Regions from separate parts of the Homo sapiens genome. Here regions 1 and 2 are each linked to region 3. Evidence: fine-mapped expression QTL. A gene starts in region 3. Each other region holds a variant in brackets. All regions are shown on one strand. Distances are between the middles of the regions.

Region 1 (8,011 bases), 45 kb before region 3:
TGCAAAGACTTCTTAGATCATCTACTTGATATTTTTTTGGTAAATAATAGTGGCTTCATTCAGCTGTATTGTGGCTACTTTGAGGAGTATAGTTCATAATTTCTCAGCAAGATAACTTTAAGATCTGAAGATTCTCAGAGTTTTAATATTTTACGCAGGGATTTGCCTATGTTTTGTTTGGTTCTAAGACATTTACTGGTTCTCCTTTTAGGATGACAAGTTCTTTATCATTGCATAACTTTAGTTTACTGTATTTCCCTTAGTCACCCTCAAGCTGTGGATAGAGATTCAGCTTCATCTGTATGTACAGGGTATGCTTGTGGTATGTTCAGCATAAGAACAGGAATCTTCCATGAGATTCAGATCCCACGCTTTTTTAGAATGTGCAGAAGGAGTACAATCCTCCTTTTAAAAATTTATTTTTTCAACTTTTATTTTAGGTCCAGGGGTACGTGTGCCAGTAGGTTTGTCACATGGGTAAATTGTTTATCACTGAGGTTTGGTGTATGCATGATCCCATCACTCAGGTAGTGAGCACAGTACGTGATAGGTAGTTTTCAACCCTTGCCCCCTCTCCTCCTCTAGTGGTCCCCAGTGTCTATTGTTCCCATCTTTATGTCCATGTGTACTCAATGTTTAGTTCCCACTTATAAGTGAGAACATGCAGTATCTAGTTTTCTGTTTCTGTGTTAATTAACTTAGGATAATAGCCTCCAGTTGCGTCCGTGTTGCCGCAAAGGACATGGTTTCATTCTTTTTTATGGCTGTGTAGTATTCCATGGTGTATATGTTCCATATTTGCTTTATCCAGTCCACTGTTCATGGTCATCTAGGCTGATTCTATGTCCTTGCTATTGTGAATAGTGCTGCAATGAGCATGTAAGTGTATGTGTCTTTTTTTTTTTTTTTTTTTGAGATGGAGTCTCCCTCTGTTGCCAGGATGGAGTGGAGTGGCACCATCTTGACTCACTGCAACCTCCGCATCCTGGGTTCAAGCGATTCTCCTGCCTCAGCCTCCCAAGTAGCTGGGACTACAGGCGTGTGCCACCACTCCCAGCTAATTTTTGTAGGTTTGGTAGAGATGGGGTTTTACCAGGTTGGCCAGGATGGTCTGCATCTCTTGACCTCGGGATCCGCCTGCCTTGGCATCCCAAAGTGCTGGGATTACAGGTGTGAGCCATTGCGCCCAGCCATATGTCTTTTTTTGTAGAATGATTTGTTTCCCTTTGAGTATATATCCAGTAGTGGAATTGTTGGATCAAATGGTGGTTCTGTTTTAAGTTCTTTGAGAAATCTCCAAACTGCTTTCCACAATGGCTGAGCTAATTTATATTTCCCCCAACAGTGTAAAAGTGTTCCCTTTTTTCCACAATCTTGCCAACATCTTTATTTTTTGTCTTTTTAATAATAGGTATTCTGACTGGGGAGATGGTGTCTTATTGTGATTTTAATTTGCTTTTTTCGAATGATTAATGATGTTGAGCATTTTTTCATGTATTTGTTGGTTGCATGTATGTCTTCTTTGGAAAAGTGCCTGTTGATGTCCTTTGCCCATTTTTTAATGGCATTGTTTGTTTCATCTTGTTGAATTGTTGAAGTTCCTTATAGATTCTGGATATTAGACCTTTGTCAGATACATAGTTTGTGAATATTTTCTCCTTTTCTGTAGATTGTCTGTTTACTCTGTTGATAGTTTCTTTTGTTGTGCAGAAGCTCTTTAAAGTCTCACTTGTCAATTTTTGGTTTTGTTGCAATTGCTTTTGGGGACTTAGTTATAAATTCTTCACCAAGGCTGATGTCCAGAATGATATTTCCTAGGTTTTCTTCTAAGATGTATTTTCATAGTTTGAGGTCTTACATTTAAGTTCTTAATCTATCTTGAGTGGATTTTTGAATATAGTAAAAGGAAGAGGTCCAGTTTCACTCTTCTGCATATGACTGGCCATCCCAGCACCATTTAGGGAGTCCTTTCCCCATTGCTTGTTCTAGTTGCTTTTGTTGAAGATCAGATGGTTGTAGGTGTATGACTTTGTTTCTGGGTTCTCTATCCTATTGCATTGGTCTTTTTGTCAGTTTTTGTACCATACCATGCTGTTTTTGTTACTGTAGCCTTGTAGTACAGTTTGAAGTCAGGTAGTGTGATGCCTCCAGCTTTGTTCTTTCTGCTTAGAATTGCTTTGGCTGTTTGGGCTTTTTTGGAGGGAGGGTCCATTTTAGAATAGTTCTTTCCTGTGAAAAAATGATGTTGGTAGTTTGATAGGAATAGCATTGCATCTGTATATTGCTTTGGGCTGTATGGCCATTTTAACAATATTTTTCAATCCCCTTTGCAACCACATTCCTGTGATGATACTGGTACTTGAAGCACCACCAAAGTTTTCCTCTCAAGCTTCAGATGAGAAATACCTTAGGGTGTGAATGCAATTAACTTGTCACCCAGGATTTTATTATTCTTTAACTTTTGTATACTCTCTCAGTTCCTCTTTTATCTCCCTATTTCTTTTCCAGTCTCCCTTCTCCCTTCTCTTTGCTTTTTCTGATTTATTGATCCCATACACTTTCTACTATCGTATTAAATATCTGCCATATTTGTTAATTTTCATCATTTCAAAAGGTAAGCTTTTACTTTGGGAATTGAATCTGTAGAGGTTTTTAGCCTTTATAAAAATAATAAACTAAGCTGCCATCTACTAATACTATGGGTTATATGCCTCTGTCAGATACAAAATTTTATAGGCTTACTTTAATTCCATCATGGATAGTATACTAGGGTGCAAGTCTTTTTTTTTTTTTAATACCTCGTCATCTTTCCTCTCTCCTCTTTGTTGGCTGTTACAAAGTACTCCTCTATGACCCTATCCTAGGACAGTTATACAGAGGATTCCTCAAAAAGCCAGGGTTAAAAGTGGATTTGGAGTTAAATAGCTCTATCTTTATCTTAAGCTAAGACTCCTGAGGATGTGAGAGGTGACACACCCCTCCCCACTGGTGCCTGGAGGCTTCTGATTAGTCCCTTCCTCCATGTCTCCCCAGGGGTTTCTAAAACAATTTGTTGAGGGTAGAACAACTCAGTTACATTTACATTCTTAGGACTGAAAGATGATACTAGGTCAGGAAATAGCATTTGAAAGTCATTCTCATCTGGAGGGATGAAGCCAAGATAAGGCGGAAGCCAGGAAAAGGTCAGTTTGAATAGCCTGAACCTGCCCGGGGCTGACCGACCTGTGTGGATTCAGACCCGTGCCTGGAGTAAGGGCTTCTCTGATCACTGTTGTAAAAAGGGAGCCAGGCTGAAGATCCTGGGTAGCCCAGGTCCTTCCTCCTTGGCTTTCTTATTTTCTTGGCTCTGTGGTTCCCCTTGCTGCCTCTCCTGCAGGTGGACTCTAGAGTTTCTTAACAATTGATGGACCTGGCATCTGTTGACTAAAGCAGTAAAACTAGAAAGAAAGAGGGGGGAAAGACCCAAAGGTACTTGCTGGAGACAGATTTTATGGGCAGCGACTTCATGTTCTTTTTAGAGTCACAGGTATAAACAAGCAAATAAGTGTGCACATCTTAACATTTGTTAAAAAGTTTTACTTAACAAATAAGTATGTGAGTTTACTTTTATTTTCTACTTAATTTATTTCTCATACTTTTTTTTAAAATTAAAGCTTTAAGAAAGCAAAGAATGAAAATAGCCCTGATACCCAAAGAAGCAAATCTCATGCACCGTGGGAAGAAAATGGCCCCCAGAGGTAAAGGGAATCATTGTTTTTATAAAGGAGACAGTAGAAAAGGGGTTAGTACATGCAGCTCATTGAATAAAGGAATCCAGCTGCTGGGTGGCTGATCACAGCTAGCTGTGGATAAAGTGGGCAGACTCTAAATCAATGTGACCCAGGGGAGAGGGGCTGGGATTTCTGAAGTGGAAATCAACAGTATGTTTTATAACATGAAACTTTTTCCTGGAAAGGCAAAAGGGAAACCTAGGAAATATTATGAAATTGCCTGTAAGGTAATATATTTCTGAAAACTCTAAATGGCATATTAATAATTTTCCCCATTTCATAGTTTTGGTTAAAAACTTAAGTCAAAAACTATAGCTGATGAATAGTTATGCTGGAAGACCTTTATTCCTAAAAATATGGATATGTCTAGTGTATCTCTGGTCACAACTACCAAACCAGTGACAGACCTGTGTTGTAACTTATAGTTCAAATTCTAGCCCTGCCACTTCCTAGCTACTTTATTTGGGCCACTTAATTAAGTAGTCTATATTTCAATTTTTTTTCTGTTTAATAGGTTTAATAGTTGTATCTCAGTGCTGAAGGCTGATATGAAGATTAGCTGAGATAATGAATGTAAAGTCTTTAGCTGAGTCAGTGTTTAGAAAGGGCTAAATTCATCATATGTATGAATTGTTATTGTTATTTGTGTGTGTTCATTTTTTACTACTGAAGGCTAGTGAGACAAATGGCATTCCTGCAAAATAATGACCTTTATGATTTGATTTGCCAGATCTTACCTCTTTTCTTTTAATAAATCTTGTCAGCAAAGAGAACCACGTGCCCCTGGTGCATGTGCCTCTGGAAGTACCAGCTGTGCAGTTATGAATAGGTCTGGGCTGCGGTGTGTTTTCCCCCAGGAACTCTCTGGGCTCTTTTTGACCATTTTTCTTTCTCTCCAGTGGACTCTACAATTCTCCCAGTGATCGCACTAAGTCGCCAAAGTTCCCTTACACGCGTCGCCGAAACCCCTCCTGTGGAAGTGACAATGATTCTGTACAGCCTGTGAGGAGGAGGTAAGCGGAACACAATCTCTCTGTTAGCAGCTTTCAACAGAAGCATTTTGTCCCAGGCCTGACTTTATAATAGGTGATTCTTATACCGACATTACTGTTTCTCTCCAAGATAACAAG[C/A]AGCTTACTCTTTTTGACATAAAATAAGTTAGGAATCCTGAAGTATTTATCGTAAACAGCCAGAGTTTTAGAGAATAATTTCATAAAATATTGGCAGGAACTTGCTTTCTGTATTCTATTTATGAATAATGTGTCTAAAAATAGTATATAATATATAATAAAAATATGTATTATATATAGTATATTACAAAGTAGAGACAGTATATCTTTTTTTTTTTGAGACGGAGTTTCACTCTTGTTGCCTAGGCTGGAGTGCAGTGGCACGATCTCAGCTCACTGCAACCTCCGCCTCCTGGGTTCAGGCGATTCTCCTGCCTCAGCCTCCCCAGTAGCTGAGATTACAGGCATGTGCTGCCACGCCCGGCTGATTTTTTTGTATTTTTAGTAGGGGTTTTTCCATGTTGGTCAGGCTGGTCTCGAACTCCCAACCTCAGGTGATCCACCCGCCTCGGCCTCCCAAAGTGCTGGGATTACAGGTGTAAGCCACTGCGCCCAGACGAGATAGTATATGTTAATATATAAAACATATTAAGTGTTTCTACCTGAGAAGACAAAACTACACTTAAAGATAAGCCTTTTTAGCTGAAAAACGCCTTTTAAAGCACAGAAAAAAATGAATCCTGTTACATTTTACCTATACGGGTAGAGTGTTTGAAGGGATAATATTTGTGTGTGTATGCTTAATTTAAAAAGTTCTTAGCTGGAAGTTTTGGACCTCTCTGCAAAGCAGGCTGGGCAGTGTGACAGGTACAAGAGAGGAAGATGTAGAAATGACTCATCAGTGAAATTCTTTTCACTCCTACATGGCAGGGACTGTGTTTTATTTTGAGTACCTACATAATTGGCATTGTATAAATGACTTTTTCCTTTTTTTGGTTTTTGTGGTTTTTGTTTTTGTTTTTGAGATGGAGTCTCGCTCTGATGCCCAGGCTGGAGTGTAGTGGCATGATCTTGGCTCACTGCAAACTCTGCCCCCTGGGTTCGAGCGATTCTCCTGCCTCAGCCCCCTGAGTAGCTGGGATTACAGGCATGCGCCATCAGGCCCGGCTAATTTTTTTATTTTTAGTAGGGATAGGGTTTCTCCACGTTGGTCTCGAACTCCTGACCTCGTGATCCCTCTGCCTCAGCCTCCCAAAATGCTGGGATTACAGGCATGAGTCACCGCGCCCGGCCTCTTTTTCCTTTTTTAAAAAAATAAAAATGTATAAATTAAAGTAGAGATGGGGTCTCACTTGTTATGTTGCCCAGGCTGGTCTTGAATTCCTAGCCTCAAGCAGTCCTCCCACCTCAGTCTCCCAAATTGCTGGGATTACAGGCATGAGTCACTGCACCCAGCCTAAATGACTTTTATACTTACAAGAAGTTTCAGTTCATGATGTCAGGTAACCATCAAGACTCTTTTTGTGCACACTGCAGGTTTGGAAGCCAAGCCCTTCTTTCACCTATGCCCTAGTTAATACACACTTGCTGGCCTTTTCCTGCTTGATCCCTTTTGCTTCTGCTAGTTTCCCAGAGCTTTGCCCCCAGCTTTCTGAAACCAAGTTCAACTTCACTGAAATCCTTTGATGGTTAAGAAGAGAAGGGTCTATATTACCTTCATGTAGTAGGACTGACATGAGGGTGCTAGATCAGGTCCAACAATGATTAGACAGAATAATAGGGTAATAGTAGGCATTTGTTTGGTATTGCCATATTCCAAGTACTGAGCAAAGTGCTTGCTCTATATTATCTCATGTAATCCCAATAATAACCCTTTGGGAAATGGCATTTGTATTCAGGCATGATGTGATTCTAGCAGAGGGGGATTAAGTAGGGAATTGGTGCAAAGGTATAAGTAGGATTGAAGGTGCAAAAAGCAGAGAGTGGTGTAACTCAAGAGATCTAGCTGCTTTTACTGCCTCTGGACTGAAGGAATGCAAAGAGAGAAGTGGGTGTTACCTGGAGACCAGAAGCCGCTTCCACCTTTGAGCAGGCAATCCTGAGCCTGTGCTTGCTGCTGACAATGCTGCAGGCACCGTGATGGATGCTAGACAGGGACCACTCTTGCTGACACTGCTGGAGATACCACCACTGTAGCCGAACAAAGAACCCCCACTTCTCAGGAGTGCAAGAGTTGATGCCACAGGTACAACTAGAAGGAAAATAACTTTTCCTGTTCTCTGCCTTCAGATCTAACTGGAGTCTCTCTTAACTAGAACCCAGCTGGCAAAGTGTCCAGGAATATAAAATTTCCAGGCTTTCTATCTCTGCAGTAGAGAGTAGATTATAGATGAGTCAGTAGAGGCTGAGTACCAATGAAAAATATTCAGCCCACCATCACCATCTCAGTTTTACAGATGAGAAAACTGAGGCTCAGGGAGATGATGGTAGCTTGTCCTCTGTGGCACACATGGGATTGGAATCCCAGCCTGTACATCTGAAAAAGGTGGAGATAGTGATAGCCCTCATTTAAATAAACTGTACTTCAGCCCTTACTCAGCATTCTCCTTGGGAACACCAAGAGTTGGTTCAATTTGGACAATACTTAAAACCAAAGCAACACCACTGGGAAATACTTTAAAGTGCATTTGTGTGTATTGTGTGTTGAGGCGACATAGGTGGCAGGGATGATTAGAATTTAGCATATATTATTCGTAGATAGAGTTTTATAGTTTTCTACCCTTAATTAATTAGTGCAATTTGTCAGCACTCCCTATATAAAATAATTACACATGTTGAGCAGATAGTCATTTTAATACATTTGAAAATGAGCTTAATTACATTTTGCTAAAATATGGCTAAATTTGCATATTTTCATACAAAATAATTGCTTGAAATAGTTTGCAGCATATACACTCCCAAATCCAGACTTGACTTCTACACTGAGGTTCATTTTCCGCTGGCTTCCTGTGAAACACAGAGAAGTAATTGTGGAGAGTGGATACAGGATCCTTTCATTGGCGTATTCCAGGGGAAGGCTATTTAAATTTGCTGGGAAGAGGATCTTTTTGCCTGAGCATCCATAGAGCCTTTTGCCTGATGCACTTACAGGTCTCTTTTGGGGACGTGTGTTTTGAGGCAATGAGCCATTGCTGCATGTTGACATAAAAAGGACTAAAGCACATTCTTCTC
Region 2 (8,011 bases), 54 kb before region 3:
GTTTTTAATGTCATATTTATACTTCAAATTATATCCTTTGGTACTATTTAAACTTTTCATGAAAAATTTTAGGTATCATTTTGAAACAAGCACAAGGTACATTGTTTTTCAAAATTCTTTTAGTGAGTGCTTGCGTAAAATAAAACACTACAGAGTCCTTGAGATGAGCTCAAACGTGGAAGCAGACAAAAAACTTCCCAATTTTGCCTTAGCTAAATAAGCATTTTAAAAACAATCTTGATATACAGGTATGCTTAGTTTATATTTGCATTTACTTTATTTACTATTAAAATTGCATCAAATAAAAACCTCAAAAGTAGTGTTCTAGCACTCTCCTCTGAGACAGAACCAGCTTTAGGTTAGGTATGGAACTATCCACCTGCCCTAGACCAAGCAAGCATAAATTGTGGGGCTTGAGAGATGGCTGGAGAATGTTTGGTGTGTGTCAGTCGGCTGTGTAGCCCTGATAGAGGATTGGAGGAGAGGGCACCAGGAGTACCACTGGGAAGGATGTGAGTGATCACTCAACTCTCTTCCCTCAAACTCGTATCACAGGAAGAAAAACTTGATATCCAAGTGACTCGTGACACCTCTTGATTCCAGCTGACCATTCATAGATAGGTGTTATCTTTGGGTCCAAGAGGGCTTGAAGGAACAATGTGCACCCTCTCCTGTTACCACATCTGGCAGTCTTTCCACGCTGGTGTAGATTACAAATCTTCAGATAGAAGTCTCTCATCCTACTCCTTTGAAGTTCTAAGGGAATGAGCAGATGCCTTCCTAGCCTCACAAATCCCTTTCTTGTTTTTGAACCTGGCATTCTGACCCACAAGGAGGACTGTCTGTGAGTACCTCCACACCCTGTAGCTCCTCCACACACTCTGTAGCACTGGGGGAAGGGCAGAGGAGGAAGTGCCTTTATGTGCACTCACAGTCCCAAATTATCATTTTGGTAATGACGAAAGCAGAGGGATCCAGGAGAGTACTGGGTCTGGGAAGAGGAAATTGGAAGCAGAACAACTCAGGAGGGGGCCTTTCATGCATAGACATGTTTTCCTAGCATCTTTCTCCTCCACACCCATTCCTTATAATCTACCCTCCAGCTTTTCAGTAGAATGCCTTCTTTGATCTTGCAGTAGCAAAATTGGTGTCTAAAAAGTCTATGTATATCTAGTAAAAAGGCAACTGCTTAAATATCACTCTTGGAACTTTAGAAGGCAGAAACATTTTTTGTGTTTTAAGAAATGGAGTCTCACTCTGTCACCAGGCTGGAGTGCAGTGGTGTGATCATGGCTTATTGTAACCTCAAACTCTCAAGTTCAAACAATCCTCCTGCCTCAGTCTCAATAACTGGGATGACAAGCATGGGCCACCATGCCTGGCTAATTAAAAAAACTTTTTTTGTAGAGATAGGTCTCACTATGTTGCCCAGGCTGATCTCAAACTCCTAGCCTCAAGCGACCCTCCTGCATTGTCTTCCCAAAGTGCTGGGATTACAGGAGTGAGCTACTGTATTCAGCCCAGGAATTCTTAAGCAGGAATCTGGCTGCCTTTTGGGGATGAGCCAGGTGTTTGAACTTAAACAATTAGCCATTGGATGCAGAAACATCTTTATTTTCCAAATTATGTTTTAATATTTATTTTTGCTTTATAGAATTTAATGAGCATCTGTTTTGCCAAATATAAAATTTTCCAGCTGGATGCGGTGGCTCACGCCTGTAATTCTAGCATTTTGGGAGGCTGAGGCAGGTGGATCACCTGAGGTCAGGAGTTCAAGACCAGCCTGGGCAACATGGTGAAACCCCATCTCTACTAAAATACAAAAATTAGCTGGGCATGATGGTGGGTGCCTGTAATCCCAGCTACTCGGGAGGCTGAGATGGTAGAATCGCTTGAACCTGGGAGACTGTGGTTGCAGTGAGTGGGTGGCTGAGCGAGACTCTGTCTCAAAAAAAAAAAAATTCCATGATGATAGGAAAATTATATAAGGTTTTCTTGAATATTTAGCTATTTGGCCGTAATTTGTGGTATAGAAAAAGAATGTTTTATTTTGCTAATTTGCTATACTGCCATTTTTTCCATAGTACCTAGTCTAAAGTTGGTGAAATTAAGGCAAAGTCACTTTGAGCTGTCAATGTGAGAAATAGAGCTAAAATATATTTTCAATTATTGGTCAGTTCTTAATTCACAAATATCATGTCTTTTGATAAGTTGAACTGGGTTAGGTCATGCAAATCAGATTGTGTTAACTGAAACCTAATAACTTACTGTGTTGAGAATAGCTATAATCTTATTATTTGTCTTAAGCATTTTATACAGTTTTTTTTTATGTTAAGGGAAGAAAATGTGATTGTTAAGTAGGACAAGATTTAACCTGAAGGTTTATAAATTTATATTTGAGAATTTTTAAAAGAAAGTGTATGTCACAACCTTGTTTTACTTGTTTAGCTGTATGTTATTTTCCCCACATATCAGAATAAGGTATTCTCGCTTTCCAAATACATTTTTTTCATTTTAATTTCACACATTCAGCCTTCACCCTCACTCTAAAAATTAAAAGGAATGGCAACATTTAAGTAACATCAAAGATTTGATTTATGTTGACAGGTGTCAAATTGACTTATGAATTTTGTGAGACTCGTAATCCTATTTAATTGCAAAGTATTTTTGTAATTGAAAATACGTGTATATTCATCACCAAATCTTGACATCACAGGGATGACTTTTAAGAATTGCCCCCAGATAAAGTAGCTAAATAGATCCTGGGAAAGTTCATTCTGTTTCTGACAGTCACACTTCCTGAACTGAAGGCAAGGATCACTTAAGATGGAGGTACTCAAATGTGAACAGAATCTAACCACTCAAAGGACTGGTAGTGGTCTGATGCACCAGGATGGAAGTATTTGGATATAGTGTATTAAAAACGAACAAATGAAACCCTGGAGCTTTGCACACTGGCATTTCAGTACTGTATAAACCACAGGGAATTGTGTGTGCACATATTAAGCTGTGGTGTCTAACAGCCCAGAAACAAATATCACAGGCCATGAGCTAGATTTGGCTCATTAATAAATGATAGCACTCCCCGACTGACATACTCTTCAAAATACGAGCAGCCTTTTGGAATTAAGCTTTGTCTGTTTTTTTTTTGTTTTTTTTGTTTTTTTTTTTTTTTGAGATGGAGTCTCACTCTGTCGCCCAGGCTGGAATGCAGTGGCGCGATCTCTGCTCACTGCAAGCTCCACCTTCCGGGATCACGCCATTCTCCTGCCTCACCCTCCCGAGTAGCTGGGACCACAGGCACCTGCCAGCACGCCTGGCTAATTTTTTGTATTTTTAGTAGAGACGGGGTTTCACCATTGTTAACCAGAATGGTCTCGATCTCCTGACCTCATGATCCGCCCGCCTTGGCCTCCCAAAGTGCTGGGATTACAGGCGTGAGCCAC[C/T]GCGCCCGAGCAAGCTTTGTCTTTTTAATGTGAACAATATGTAAAATGAATTGGACACTCTTGATTAATTCTAAGTGGCCTCACTAGAGTTATTATTATTTTTACTTGAAGTAAAATACAGATTTACTTCAAAGCCTTAATAGCCATATGTCAATAACTGATCTTGATTGCAGATCACCTGTGGCTGTGAATTGAAACAGCAGTGTGCTACTGCAGAAGACTGCCTTTTAAAATTCTAAGAAGCAGCCCAGTCCTGCAAGGTATATTGCCGCATGTCCTTTTGACATGCGTCTCAGGTACCACCACATCTATTAATAGTTTTTGTTTTACTTTTGACACTTATTAAATAAAGATCATTATCCTGAATTTTCCTCTCTAGTGGCAAAAATGGTAGAAACAGAAATACATCCTTTCTAATAATAGACATTCATTGAGTACCTACCATGGGTGGTGCACTGTTCTGGCAGCCATGTGGGTGCACAATGATGTGTCCTTCATTTTATTAAGATTTTGAGGCCTTATGAAGTTTTTAATTTAAAAATAATTTTGTTTTATATGTCAAATATTTTATGAAATGAAACACAGAATAATCTGTGTTTCCAGATATTTTAGGCAGAAAGCAACTGTTTAACTTTATCTAGAAAGTAAAGAATTGCCCCAAATGAGATGATTGTGAAGTGCAGGAAAATTGCCCTCTGTGTTTTTTTTCTTTTGTTTTTGCCTTTTGAGATGGAGTCTTGCTCTGTCGCCTGGGCTGGAGTGCAGTGGCGCGATCTCCACTCACTGCAAGCTCCGCCTCCTGAGTTCACGTCATTCTTCTGCCTCAGCCTCCCGAGTAGCTGGGACTACAGGTGCCCACCACCACACCTGGCTAAATTTTTTTTGTATTTTTAGTAGAGATGGGGTTTCACTGCTTTAGCCAGGATGGTCTCGATCTCCTGACCTCATGATCCGCCCGCCTCGGCCTCCCAAAGTGCTGGGATTACAGGCGTGAGCCGCCGCGCCCGGCTGCCCTCTGTGTTTTAATTCTTGAAGTGGGTGGTGGTTTACTGTATGATTATTTGTTAAGCTGTTTATATATGTATGTTATACCCTTTTCTTATGTCTGATATTTAAATGAAAAAGCAGTGGTGGTGGGGAAAGATTTATCTAACCTCCAAATATTTTCTGGAACAGTGCCTGAAATTCCCTTGTTATTGGTTAATTATTTTAGTTAATATTTGGTCTTTCCTTTTACTCATCTTCAAAATGGAACTGTTCTGTGGTACATAATACATGAAGACATAAGCCCATTAGTGGGATGGATTTGTCAGGTCACTTTTCTCTGTAGCCCGAGTCTGAGCTGATGTAGGAGGGATTCTGGAAGGTGGTATGATGAGGGGAGGAAAAGGAAAATTTAGTGGTCCATGTTAACAAAATGGAAAGTCAGTAAACCTAAATAATGCATAACCTAAATTTCTCACCTCTGCAGATTTCAATCACCAACATATAACCTAGCTTTACTGAATTGATTAGCTATCTCAAATGGTGGTATGGTAAAATCTTACTAATTTGGACAGTGGTTAAAATATATTATTCTGAAAGTATATTTACTGCTTTTAGATTACATATTTAGTGACATAAAACTAAAACATATTGCCTAATGAAGGCATGTGACTATTATATGAATGGATACTTCAGAAGTGCTCCCAGTAAGTTAATGCTTCTAAGTGGTTTTTCCCCATGTAGTCTTCCTAATAAGGCTTTTAAAACCCAGGCTTGTCTAGTTCACATTTGTTATAGAGTAGGGGAGTACAGATGAAGAGATATTTAGTTCATATAAAAAGACTGTACATGTTGGCTGGGTTTGGTGGCTCATGCCTGTTATCCCAGCACCTTGGGAGGCTGAGGTGATGCGGGCAGATAACCTGAGGCCAGGAGTTTGAGACCAGCCTGTCCAACATGGTGAAACCCCATCTCTACTAAAAATACAAAAATTAGCCGGGCGTGGTGGTGCATGCCTGTAATCCCAGCTACTCATGAGGCTGAGGTAAGGGAATCACTTGAACCCAGGAGGCAGAGGTTGCAGTGAGCTGAGATCGTGCCACTGCACTCCAGCCTGGGTGACAGAGCAAGAGTCTATCTTAAAAAAAAAAAAACAAAAAAAAAAACTGTACATGTTAACAGTGAACAGTAGATTACCATTTTGAATATAAAGGAACCATGAATTAAGTCATATTACTGATTATACCTTATCTCGTCTACAGTGGGTATATGAGAGTTATAGCACTGTCACATTAGTAAATTAGTCCTGACAGTAGAACAATTTATTTTGAAAAAGTTTGGCTATGCTGGTTGTGAGTGTTTGTGACAAAGAGCACTCACATGATTTTTTTTTCCTGAAATTCTTTTGGAAAACCATCCAAATAATGCTTCATCTTAAAAATTATGATTCAGACATTGTGAAAAACCAAATATTGCTTTCTTTAAGCAAATATATAAACATAGTTTGCAATTTTTCTTTTTAAAAATATTCTGTTTTTCTCTGTTAATTTTTGGATGGAAGGGAAACAGGTGAAGGTGATTAGGCACTTTTCCTAAAGTAATTGATTGTTAGACTAAGAAAAAAGTAGTCAGTCTAAAGAGAATGAGGGTGGGAGCAAACCTAGGTCTTTTCTTAAGCTAGTTACTCAGGGCCTTGGTTAACAGGATGTTCACCTTTACTCAGCTTTTTTCAGTTGGTGTTATTGACACTGGGTATTGGTCTCTCTGCTGTGGCCCCCTCTCCCAGCCTAGGAAAACAGCCCTAGGACATGAAGCTCCTTTTCATTTATATTAAATATTAGTAATATCTGCTAAGAATACCACCACATTTAAATAAAGGTTATTAAGAACAATTAAAAATACTAATGTTAGGGGGCTGGGCACAGTGGCTCACACCTGTAATCCCAGCACTTTGGGAGGCCAAGGTGGGTGGATCACTTGAGGTCAGGAGTTCCAGACCAGCCTGGCCAAGATGGTGAAACCCTGTCTCTACTAAAATTATAAAAAAATTAGCTGGACTCAGTGTCATGCGCCTGTAATCCCAGCTACTTGGGAGTCTGAGGCAGGAGAATTGCTTGAACCGAGGAGGCAGAGGTTGCAGTGAGCTGAGATCATGTCACTGCACTCCAGCATGGGCGACAAAGCAAGACTCTGTCTCAGGAGAAAAAAAAAAACAAAAACAACTAATGGTAGGGCACACCTACTGTCTAGGACCTAAATGAATTAGTCCCTTCTGCCACTGCCCCAGACGTGTACCACATGGAGTTCTACCTGTGAGAAGCAGCTTCATCCCAAATCTTTGCCTGCAATTTTGAGAATCTGCCCTTGTGATTTTGTTAATGGTCACATGGTTATGGCAAAATTGACTAAGATGGTGACTGGCCACTGCTGACGTTTGATGGCACGTGGAGTAGTTCCAGGGAATTAATTGGTTGTGTTCCATTTATCACACCAGGCAGAATTTACCCTAACATTAGTCTTTTCTTATTCCTGGCTTCTGGATGTTGCTCAGTTATTGGTAGTGGCTCCAGCATGAGCTTACCTTTTGTGCCACAGGTGTCTTCAGGCTCACCTTTTCATTTCAAGATTCCAAAATAGGAACACAATTCAGATATGGAATCCCATGTCAAATGCCTTAGAGTAACAGTTTTTGGAACTCTTATCTGAAACCACCCTTTGTTTTCTCTGTCTAAAGTGTATTTATTAATGTTTATCTTTCCTGATGGGTAAGCCAGACATACTTCCCAACTGCTCTGGAGGAAACTTGCCAACTTTGAGGGTGCTCAGGTGTTTCTCTTGTCTTGTCCTCTTGCCTTGCTCTGAAGTGTTCTTCTCATTGAACATCACTTTCACTTGCTGTGTGGGTTTTTTTTTTTTTTTTGAGACGGAGTCTCGCTCTGTAGCCAGGGCTGGAGTGTAGTGGCGCAATCTCAGCTCACTACAACCTCCACCTCCCGGGTCCCAGTTCAAGCAATTCTCCTGCCTCAGCCTCCTGAGTATCTGGGATTACAGGCATGCGCCACCATGCCCAGCTAATTTTTATATTTTTAGTAGAGATGGGGTTTTGCCTTGTTGGCCAGAGTGGTCTTGAACTCCTGACCTCGTGATCCGCCCGCCTCGGCTTCCCAAAGTGCTGGGATGACAGGCGTGAGCCACTGCGCCTGGCCCACTTGCCCTTTTAAGAGTCTGTCTCTCCCAGTTGACTCCTAATCTAGACTGACTCTTGAGCTGCTTGTGGGGCCACAGGTGGAAGTAGTGTGTGGTTCAGAGCTAAGTCTGTGGAGCCAGACTGCCCATCTTCAAAGCTTGCCCCACCACTCAGGAGCTGTGGGACCTTGAGAAAGGCCCATTTTTTTTAAATCTTTTAAAATGAGATAACATTGATATCTACTTCATAGGATTATTTTGAGGATACATGAGTAAATAGATGTGAAGCGCTTGTAATAGTACCTGACACATAGTAAGTACTCAATAAATATTAGTGCTTATTAATGTTACAAACTCATCTTCATGACATTCTCGGTGGTTAGTGACCGTTATGC
Region 3 (8,011 bases):
CTTGTGTCTGTGTCCACCACAACCAAGACCAGATGCATCTGATGAACATTCTGGAATTCTGAACTGCAGCTAGCCTGCTGTGCAATAGTACAAGTGGGAGGACGTCTTCCCAGGGCTGGGCTGGTTCTCAACTAGTGCCCAGATGCAAAAGGACTGAGGCATCACTTTCAGACTGCATATATTTTTATTCATATAAAGTTCTTTATAATACTTTATTTTGTGGTGTTAAGTTCCACCAGTTATTTACAAATGATGTAAAAAGCTTTAAGTGTTGTTAATTTCTAAAGTGTTCTTGCGTTTTCAGAAGTGTAAGTGGATCTCAGTTGATCTGTCACCCCAAACCTCAAATGATCCATCCACCCTGCTTGGCCATCTAATTCACCTGCTCTCCCCAGTGACTATTTTGTACCTTTCCTCTCCATAGATGACTTTGCAATCTACAGGGAAAATACTTATGCAGGACATCTTATATCTCCCCCTTACCACGTACAGTTCTCTCCACAGCTGCCAGCAGCCCTAACCTTTTTGTCTCTCCACCTGTGCTTTGGATGCTCTTCTCCCAGCCTTTTCAGGATCTTTGTCTGTCCTCCTATATTAATGTATTCAATTATTCTCTCAGCTAGATCCTTGCTACTTGGTTTTAAATTTAAGACTAAGATTAAACAAAACTATCTTTCACAACCACAAACCCCCTCCCGCCAAGCAACTAAGATTTTCCTCTCATTCTCAGCCAGTTTTCTTGCAAGCAGTATCTTTAGTCATTGCCCTCAATTCATCTAATCCCTATCTTAAGCTATCTCTAACATGGATCTTTCCCTCTACTCCACTAATATCAATCACTGTGTTACTTAATCCCAGGGAGAATTTTTAGGACATTCTTTTGCTTCTTTAATATAATCCTATTTTGCTCCTACCACTGACCATCCTTTCTGGCTTATCATGCTTTACCTTGCCATTAATTAGTGGAGTTTCTCAAACTTCAGACCCTAGGCCCTCTTCCTCTACCACCAGCAGATCTCATTTATACCCATGGCCTTAAGGTTTATTTCTGTAGTTTAGACTACTGAGTAATGTGCTACTGCAAAAAGACCATTTGGGTTTCTCAAAGGTAATTTAAAAATTCAGCTGTTTAAATGCTGCTCCCCAGCTGAATCTAGGGTCATTATGCTCATCAGTGTGCAAGCTGGACACCTAGCAGTTATGGACACCTCCACTATTACCACGTCTAGTTGGCTCTGTCATCCAACTATAAACGATCTTATTTCACTAATTTTACTAGTCCAAGCTGGTCTCTTGTCTAGACAACAATAAGCAACCTAGTTCAACTACCTTTTCTTGCAAATCTGATTTTCCACCATGGATTTATCTTGCTTTAATAAAGCCAGAGGGAGCCTGAAGTGGTCTGGCTTCTTTACCTACCTCTTCAGCCTCATTTTGTAACACTCTCACCTCCCATAATAGCCATCTTACAAGCCTCAGTAAGGACTCAGTTCTAAAACAGGGCACTGAAGAGGGAAAGCAGCCAAAACTGTCTCAAAAGTAAGTGGACTAACGGTATCTTTTTTCTAGCCCAAGCCTCTGTATATGTCATTCCCCCAGTTTTGCCTTGTGAAAAATATGACACATACCTTTAGTCTCAACTCTTTCTCAGGTTTCCCTAAGAAAATCCTATCACGGAACTCATCTCATAGTGAAGTTTTACATTTGTGATGACATTCCCTCCACTTATCTATGTTTCCAAAGGGAAGAACTGTGTTGTGCTCATCATCGTGTTCTCAGCTCCTAGTACAGTGCTTTCAATAAATTTTTTGAATACCTCTATACATTATTTGTCGTTTCCTGCAAAGCAAAGGCAGAAGATATGGCAACATTAAATGTACAATTTAGTTGGAGGAAAAATACGCATTGAGTGCAGTAAAGCACACCTGTCACTAGAAATCAGTCTAGTTCTAGCCACGATTTTTGAGTCACTGGAAGAAAGTACATTTCTCTTTGGGCCAAACACAAGCTATTTTAAGGCTATTAATTATGGTGACAGCAGTGAATACTGATCAAAAAAGAACCCCTCCTCCCTTATAACTTTTTAGAAATAGCTGTTTCTGGCAGTTAATCACTTAAAACACAAATGCCAAAGTGCATTAATATATTTATTCACATCCTCACTGTCTTAAATGTGTATTTACAGACTCCAGCAGGTAATTATGTCAGTACTCCTCAGACTCCCAGAAATTTCAAATGATCCAGGCAACTCTTGTGAAGATCAAATTTTCAAAATCCTCACCAAGGACATCCTAAGAGAAAAAATAAAGTACTCAATTCGACAGCAAATATTTTTGTATTACATTTTAATCAAGAACTTGGTAATATGCCTGCGATTTCACAAGCTTTTAAAAAACTCAATTACTACACATAAAAACAAATCTTAAAGAGATGCAGAATGCCAGTACTATGCGTATTTATTTCCCTGGGCTTCTCAGGAAGTATCAGCAAAACCTTCCCAAAAATAAGCTGTGGAGGCTATCCCATTTATTAACTCACCTTAATAGCTACAGACAGAGCAACACTACGAATGTACCACTGACATTAAAACTCACTAGAGAAGGAACCCCAATTTAAAAGGTGATAAAAATTCCCATTACAAAGTGCTTTAAGACATATCACCCTACCTTCAGGTCACCTTTATGCTCCCAGATGGTATTCAGCTAGCAGCAGTCTACACTTCAGGCATCCATCTTCCACCTGAACAAAAATTAGAACTGGCTAAGAGAAACCATACACTTAAGGCTAGCAGGGTCAAGATCACGCGTGGAAACGTAAAAGCAGCAACTGTTACTTATGCAGCTCCTACACCAAAGGTATCAAATTTAAGGGCAGGAAAAGGCTGCAAAGCGTTTAATTTACGCCTTTTTTGACACCACATTCACTAGTTTCCAAAGTGAATGGGCAACACAAAGGCTGACACTGCGTGAGGTAGGCTTTATGGCATAAGGTTGCTGACTGGCTGACAGTAATGCCGATTACAGCCTAAAAACGGACAATACATTTCAGAGAAATTTTCTCACGATTTAAAATCCGACTTAATAATGAAAAGTGAAATGCGATGCGTTTTAAATGGCGACTGGTCTTGCACGAACGTGAAAACTCACCTGTAGGGTAGGTGATCACTCCCGACGAGCACCGCACGTGGAAACAGCTGTAACCAGGCACGCTGCTTTTAAGTTATTTTATACGGGGGCAGGGCAAGCATAAAGTCAGTTATACGGTAAGGCCTTTTCACTGACGAAAATAAAACCAGGCTTATCTGGAGAACTCCCTGGCATAGTCGATGATGTAAACACAAATCGACGAAGCTCCCCGTTTCCAAACGTGGGAACGCAGGCCTGAGGCCAGGCCGCTGCCCTTGTTCACGGCCCCGGACACTTCGGACACAGGCCGCCGCAGTCGACTCACCAGACTCAGGGTGGCCGCGTTCCCCCGCCCGGCGCCCCTGCGTGAGAGACCACGCGGCCACAGCCAGGCGCCATCCCAGAGGACCCAGAGCAAAAACCACAGCAAGCTCGCACCAAAAGGAAGAAAGGACAGGCTTCCGTCCCACAATGCTTTTCTACAAGTGGAAGGACCCACTGTCCGAGAGCGCGAGGGGGGAGCGGGCTGTACCATCGGCCGCTGCGCTATGGCGAGACGCCGCCGTGTGGCCGGAGGGAGAAGTGCCAGTGAGGGACCGAGGGGCGTGTCACCAAAGGGAGGAGGAGCCTGGGTTCTCAGCCCGAGTCACCTCTGCGGATGTGTGGCCAGTTCTTTCCACAGAGGAGGTATCCAGACATCCCCCCACCCGACCAGGGTCAAGAGCATATGATCAGTGCTGGCAGCGGCAGGAGCCCAAAGGACTTTAGACCACGTATTTTGGGACCCGACAGAATTCATGAGTCCAGCTGAGGAAGAGTAGAGTCATTCATTCGAAAGATATTTAGTCAGCACTTACTATGCTCCAGGCCCTGGCCTGAGTGCCTGGGAATCAGGTGTGGGTGAGCCAGGCAAGGTTTCTGTGGTACATTCTGCTTGGGTGAGTAGGCCACTGACCAAGTGAGCCCGGATGCTGAAATTCTACAATGTAAGTGCCAGGAGGGCAGCAAAAGAGGGTCATGCCATAGGGTAGCGCTGTCCGATGGAAACAGTGTGAGCCATGAGTGTAATTTTAAATTTTCCAATTGCCACATAAAATGTGAAAAGAACGCCGGGCGCGGTGGCTCATGCCTGTAATCCCAGCACTTTGGCAGGCTGAGGCAGGTGATCACCTGAAGTCAGGAGTTCAAGACCAGCCTGGCCAACATGGCAAAACCCCGTCTCTACTAAAAATACAAAAATTACTTGGGCTTGGTGGCGGGCGTCTATAATCCCAGCTACTTGGGAGGCTGAGGCAGGAGAAATGGCTTGAACCCGGGCGGGGTGGGGGTGGAGGTTGCGGTGAGCCGAGATCATGCCACTTGACTCCAGCCTGGACAAAAGGGCGAAACTCCGTCTCAAAAAAAAAAAAAAAAAAGTAAAAAGAAACAGATCAAATTAATTTTAATAATAACCCAACATATTTTAAATATTTCAACAGGCAATCAATATGAGATTATTAATAAGATATTTCTTTTATATCTACTAAGTCATAAAAATCCGGTGTATATTTTATACTTCCAGCACATTTCCGTTCAGACTAGACACATTTCAAGTGTTCAGTAGCTCATGGGGCTAGGAATAGGAAGACTGGAAGTGAACTCCGAGCAGATGTGTGAAGGCGGTTATGCAAGATCTGGAGACAGCAGGCCTTGGCCAGTGTGGCTGGAGTCGAGTAAGGAGTGTAGAGTGACAAGATGCAGCTGGAGAGCCAGGCAGGAGCAAGGCACTTAGGGTCTTGTCACACAGGGCAAGGTGTTGGGATTTTATGCTGAAATCTTAGAGTTGATTAATTATCACCACAAAAATTAAGCAGAGTTTGTTAATTGGCTTTTTTCCTGATAACCATAACTCCTTGAAGGGACAGGACAAGTGGCAGCAAGACAAGTTGTATGATAACAACTAGGTCTCCATGTTTCTCTAAGTCCTAGCAGAGATTCATCCAGAGACCAGTTTTAGCACCTTTCGTTGTTTCTTTGAAGCCTACTTCTATAAAAGAAAGAAGGAAAGAGAAGAAAAGGAGCTTATCTCCGAACACATCAAGTTATATACATTAAATACAGCTTTTTGTATCTCAATCATACCTCAATAAAGTGGTTTAAAAAAAAAAGAAAATTCAGGCTCACAGCCCAGTGGTCATCACACAAGGACTAGCATGAATAATAACCAAATCAATCTGGAGAAAATGACTGTACAGAATTAGTAAATGTATAATTATTACAAGAAGGTAAGTAACTCCAGACTTCATTAGGAAGTCACTGTAACATCTGGGGCAAAAGGAAGTTTGCAGAAGGAAGGCAGTAACACGAAGATTGTCCTTTAAAGACAGCGAAAGGCACAGTGTGGGGATTATAACATGCCTTAGTCTTGCCTTCTTGCTAGGGAAAGTCAGTGACATGTTTTGGCTGTGTCCTCACCCAAATCTCATTTTGAATTGTAGTTCCCATACTCCCCAGGTGTTGTGGGAGGGAGCTGGTGGGAGGTAATTGAATCATAGGGTTGGTTACCTTCATGCTATTTTCGTGATGGTGAGTGAGTTCTCAGGAGATCTCACCAGATCTTTGCTTGGCACTTCACCTTCCTGCTGCCATGTGCAAAAGGATGTGTTTGCTTCCCCTTCCGCTATGATTGTAAGTTTCCTGAGGCCTCCCCAGCCATGCTAAACTGTAAGTTAATTAAACCTTTTTATTTTATAAATTATCCAGTCTCGGGTATGTCTTGATTGGCAGCAGCATGAGAATGGACTAATGCAGTGAGAGAGAGGAAATTTTCTTGGACTGGGGCAGCCAGCATATATAGGTTTAGTTTATATCTACCTCTGATATTTGTTCCCTTAGGTATGTGACCACCATTGTGAGCCTGAGTTTCCTCATTTAAAGGTAATAACTACACACATGTACTATATGGGTTAGTTTAAAGAATTATGAAAGGTTTGTGGAATCACGTAGCATTGTGTGTGGTACATAATGACATCTAATAAATGACTCAAATGAGCTAGACATTTCCTCTCTTTTACCCCTACCCCAAATATGGAACCTTCTTGTATTGAGTTCTTATGAAAGGGGGAAACATGCTGTTTTTCTTCTAATGGCTTTACATTATTGCTCCCACTTTCCTCTTTTCTCTTCTTCCCTTTGTATCTCTTCCCTAAACTTTCCAAAATTAGGCAGAGGAAGGCATTTGTTCCAATTACTGGATCAGTGTTAGGTTTTAGGAAATCAATTCAAAATCCTTCCTCTCCCCTGTCTGCTTCAGCCTCCTGAATCCTGGTACAGAAAACCCAATTACTAAGTACAGGTAAGCAGAAAGGACATGAGAAGAAGATAGTGGATATTTTCTACCTAGTCTCTGCTTCCTCCTTGCCTGCTGGGCTGAGGCACTGTGTAAGGATGTTCAAGCCACACAGTGGTAGTGCAAATGTGAAGCAACCTGGGTTTCCCTGTGTGGAAGGCAGAATAATAATCTCTCCCCAAAAGATATTCATGTCCTAATTCTCAGAACCTGTGAATATGGTGCATTACATAGCAGAAGGGGCTTTGCATATGTGATTAATATTAGGAACCTTGAGATAGGGGGATAAAAATGGAAGAAGGTAGCAGAAGAGTTAGAGATTTGGCAGAAGGGAAGGCAGGAGAAATAGACATGAGAGGGGCTCAACCCTCCATTGCTGGCTTTGAAGATGTAGGAAGGGGCCACAAGCCAAAGAATATGGGCAGCCTCTAGTACCTGGGAATAACCCTCAGCTGACAGCAAAGGAGCAGGGATTTCTGTCCTACAGAGCTGTGAGATAATGAATGTATGTTGTTTTAAGCCACTAAATTTGTGTTAATTTGTTATGGTAGCAAGAGAAACCTAATATAACCTATAAGGGGTAGAGAGTAAGTGAGCTTTATTTGTTACTCCACCATTTCTTGTCCCATCTCGATTTTCTCATTAGGAGTGGAAACGAGATTTTGCAGACAAACTTGTGCACATTTCATTTTAAAATAATTAATCCATATAAAGCTGACTTTTGCTTATAGTGAGTTCTAGGGATAACCAGTTGCTCTAAGGTGGTTTATCAATAGCCCATCCTTTCTACACAGATCTACCATGCCACCATCATCATAGATCAGGTTGTTTTTTTTTTTTCTTTTTGCATGGATGTACCTTTGCACTCTCTATTCTGTCCTACTGGTCTATTTGTCTCTCCTGTGTCAATATTACGCTGTCTCAATTACTATATTTTTTATAATGTCTTTATATTTTCGGGGCAAATACCCTGCCCTCCCACATCCATATCACCACGCAGACACCATGATCTTTTTCAGGGAAGTCTTGGCTATTACTGTCCCTTTTCTCTTGCACATAGTTTTTAGAATTAGATTGTAAAGTTCAATGAATTGAACTGGTTCACTTGGACTCCTTCTCCTTTTTGGTAGTCATTGTTTGATTACGCTTGTCTTCAGGATTGTACTGCTAAAGCCATATTTCATCATCTTTTCACTGAACTTCACAATCTAAAGATTGTTGGGATTTTTATTGGAATTGCATTGGATCTGTGATCAACTGAAGGAGAGTTGACATCTATATGAAAATGGTATGTGTGATAGTCGATTTTATGTATCAACTCTGGATCACAGGATCTTCAGCCATCTAGCTAAACATTATTTCTGGGTGTGTCTTTGAGGATGTTTCCAGAGGAGATTAGCATTTGAATCAATAAACTGAGTAAAGGAGATGTACTTCCTCAATGTGGGTGGCATCACTTAATCCTTTGAGGGCCTCAATAGAACAAAAAACGGGATAAAGAAAGGATTCGCTTGCTGTCTGCCTGACTCTATCAGCTGGAACGTTAATCTTCTGCCCT

Which allele goes with the higher level. Positions count from the first base shown, and alleles are read on the strand shown. Sizes are in standard deviations (SD) of each study's normalised expression. Not every link is listed here.
For the expression in tibial nerve of the gene that starts at base 3,916 in region 3, allele T in region 2 goes with a lower level than allele C (moderate effect, 0.56 SD a copy in GTEx).

Evidence for each region. PIP is the estimated chance that this variant, and not a neighbour inherited with it, causes the effect.
Region 1: its variant is fine-mapped to the expression of EPB41L4A-AS1 in whole blood (TOPMed, PIP 0.94).
Region 2: its variant is fine-mapped to the expression of EPB41L4A-AS1 in tibial nerve (GTEx, PIP 0.98).

The regions. Positions count from the first base shown.
Region 1 is chr5:112,201,147-112,209,157 of GRCh38, reverse strand. EPB41L4A (erythrocyte membrane protein band 4.1 like 4A) reads left to right here. Exons shown (of 23, transcript NM_022140.5): 14 at 3,654-3,737; 15 at 4,670-4,783. It overlaps LOC124901044 (a long non-coding RNA gene), which reads right to left. Exons shown (of 3, transcript XR_007058902.1): 3 at 7,615-7,786. Among named protein-coding and RNA genes, the nearest start is that of SNORA13, 44 kb to the right of the region's middle. The variant C/A (reference allele first, on the strand shown) is at 4,901.
Region 2 is chr5:112,210,927-112,218,937 of GRCh38, reverse strand. All of the region lies in intron 12 of EPB41L4A (erythrocyte membrane protein band 4.1 like 4A), which reads left to right. Among named protein-coding and RNA genes, the nearest start is that of SNORA13, 53 kb to the right of the region's middle. RefSeq lists an enhancer at 841-1,342. The variant C/T (reference allele first, on the strand shown) is at 3,447.
Region 3 is chr5:112,156,431-112,164,441 of GRCh38, reverse strand. EPB41L4A-AS1 (EPB41L4A antisense RNA 1) reads right to left here and starts at 3,916. Exons shown (of 3, transcript NR_015370.2): 1 at 3,147-3,916; 2 at 2,667-2,739; 3 at 1,941-2,291. It overlaps EPB41L4A (erythrocyte membrane protein band 4.1 like 4A), which reads left to right. Exons shown (of 23, transcript NM_022140.5): 23 at 1-1,823. It overlaps SNORA13 (small nucleolar RNA, H/ACA box 13), which reads right to left and starts at 2,957; the gene lies at 2,825-2,957. RefSeq lists enhancers at 3,112-3,161, 3,272-3,321, 3,342-3,441, 3,217-3,949, 3,822-4,031 and 1 more.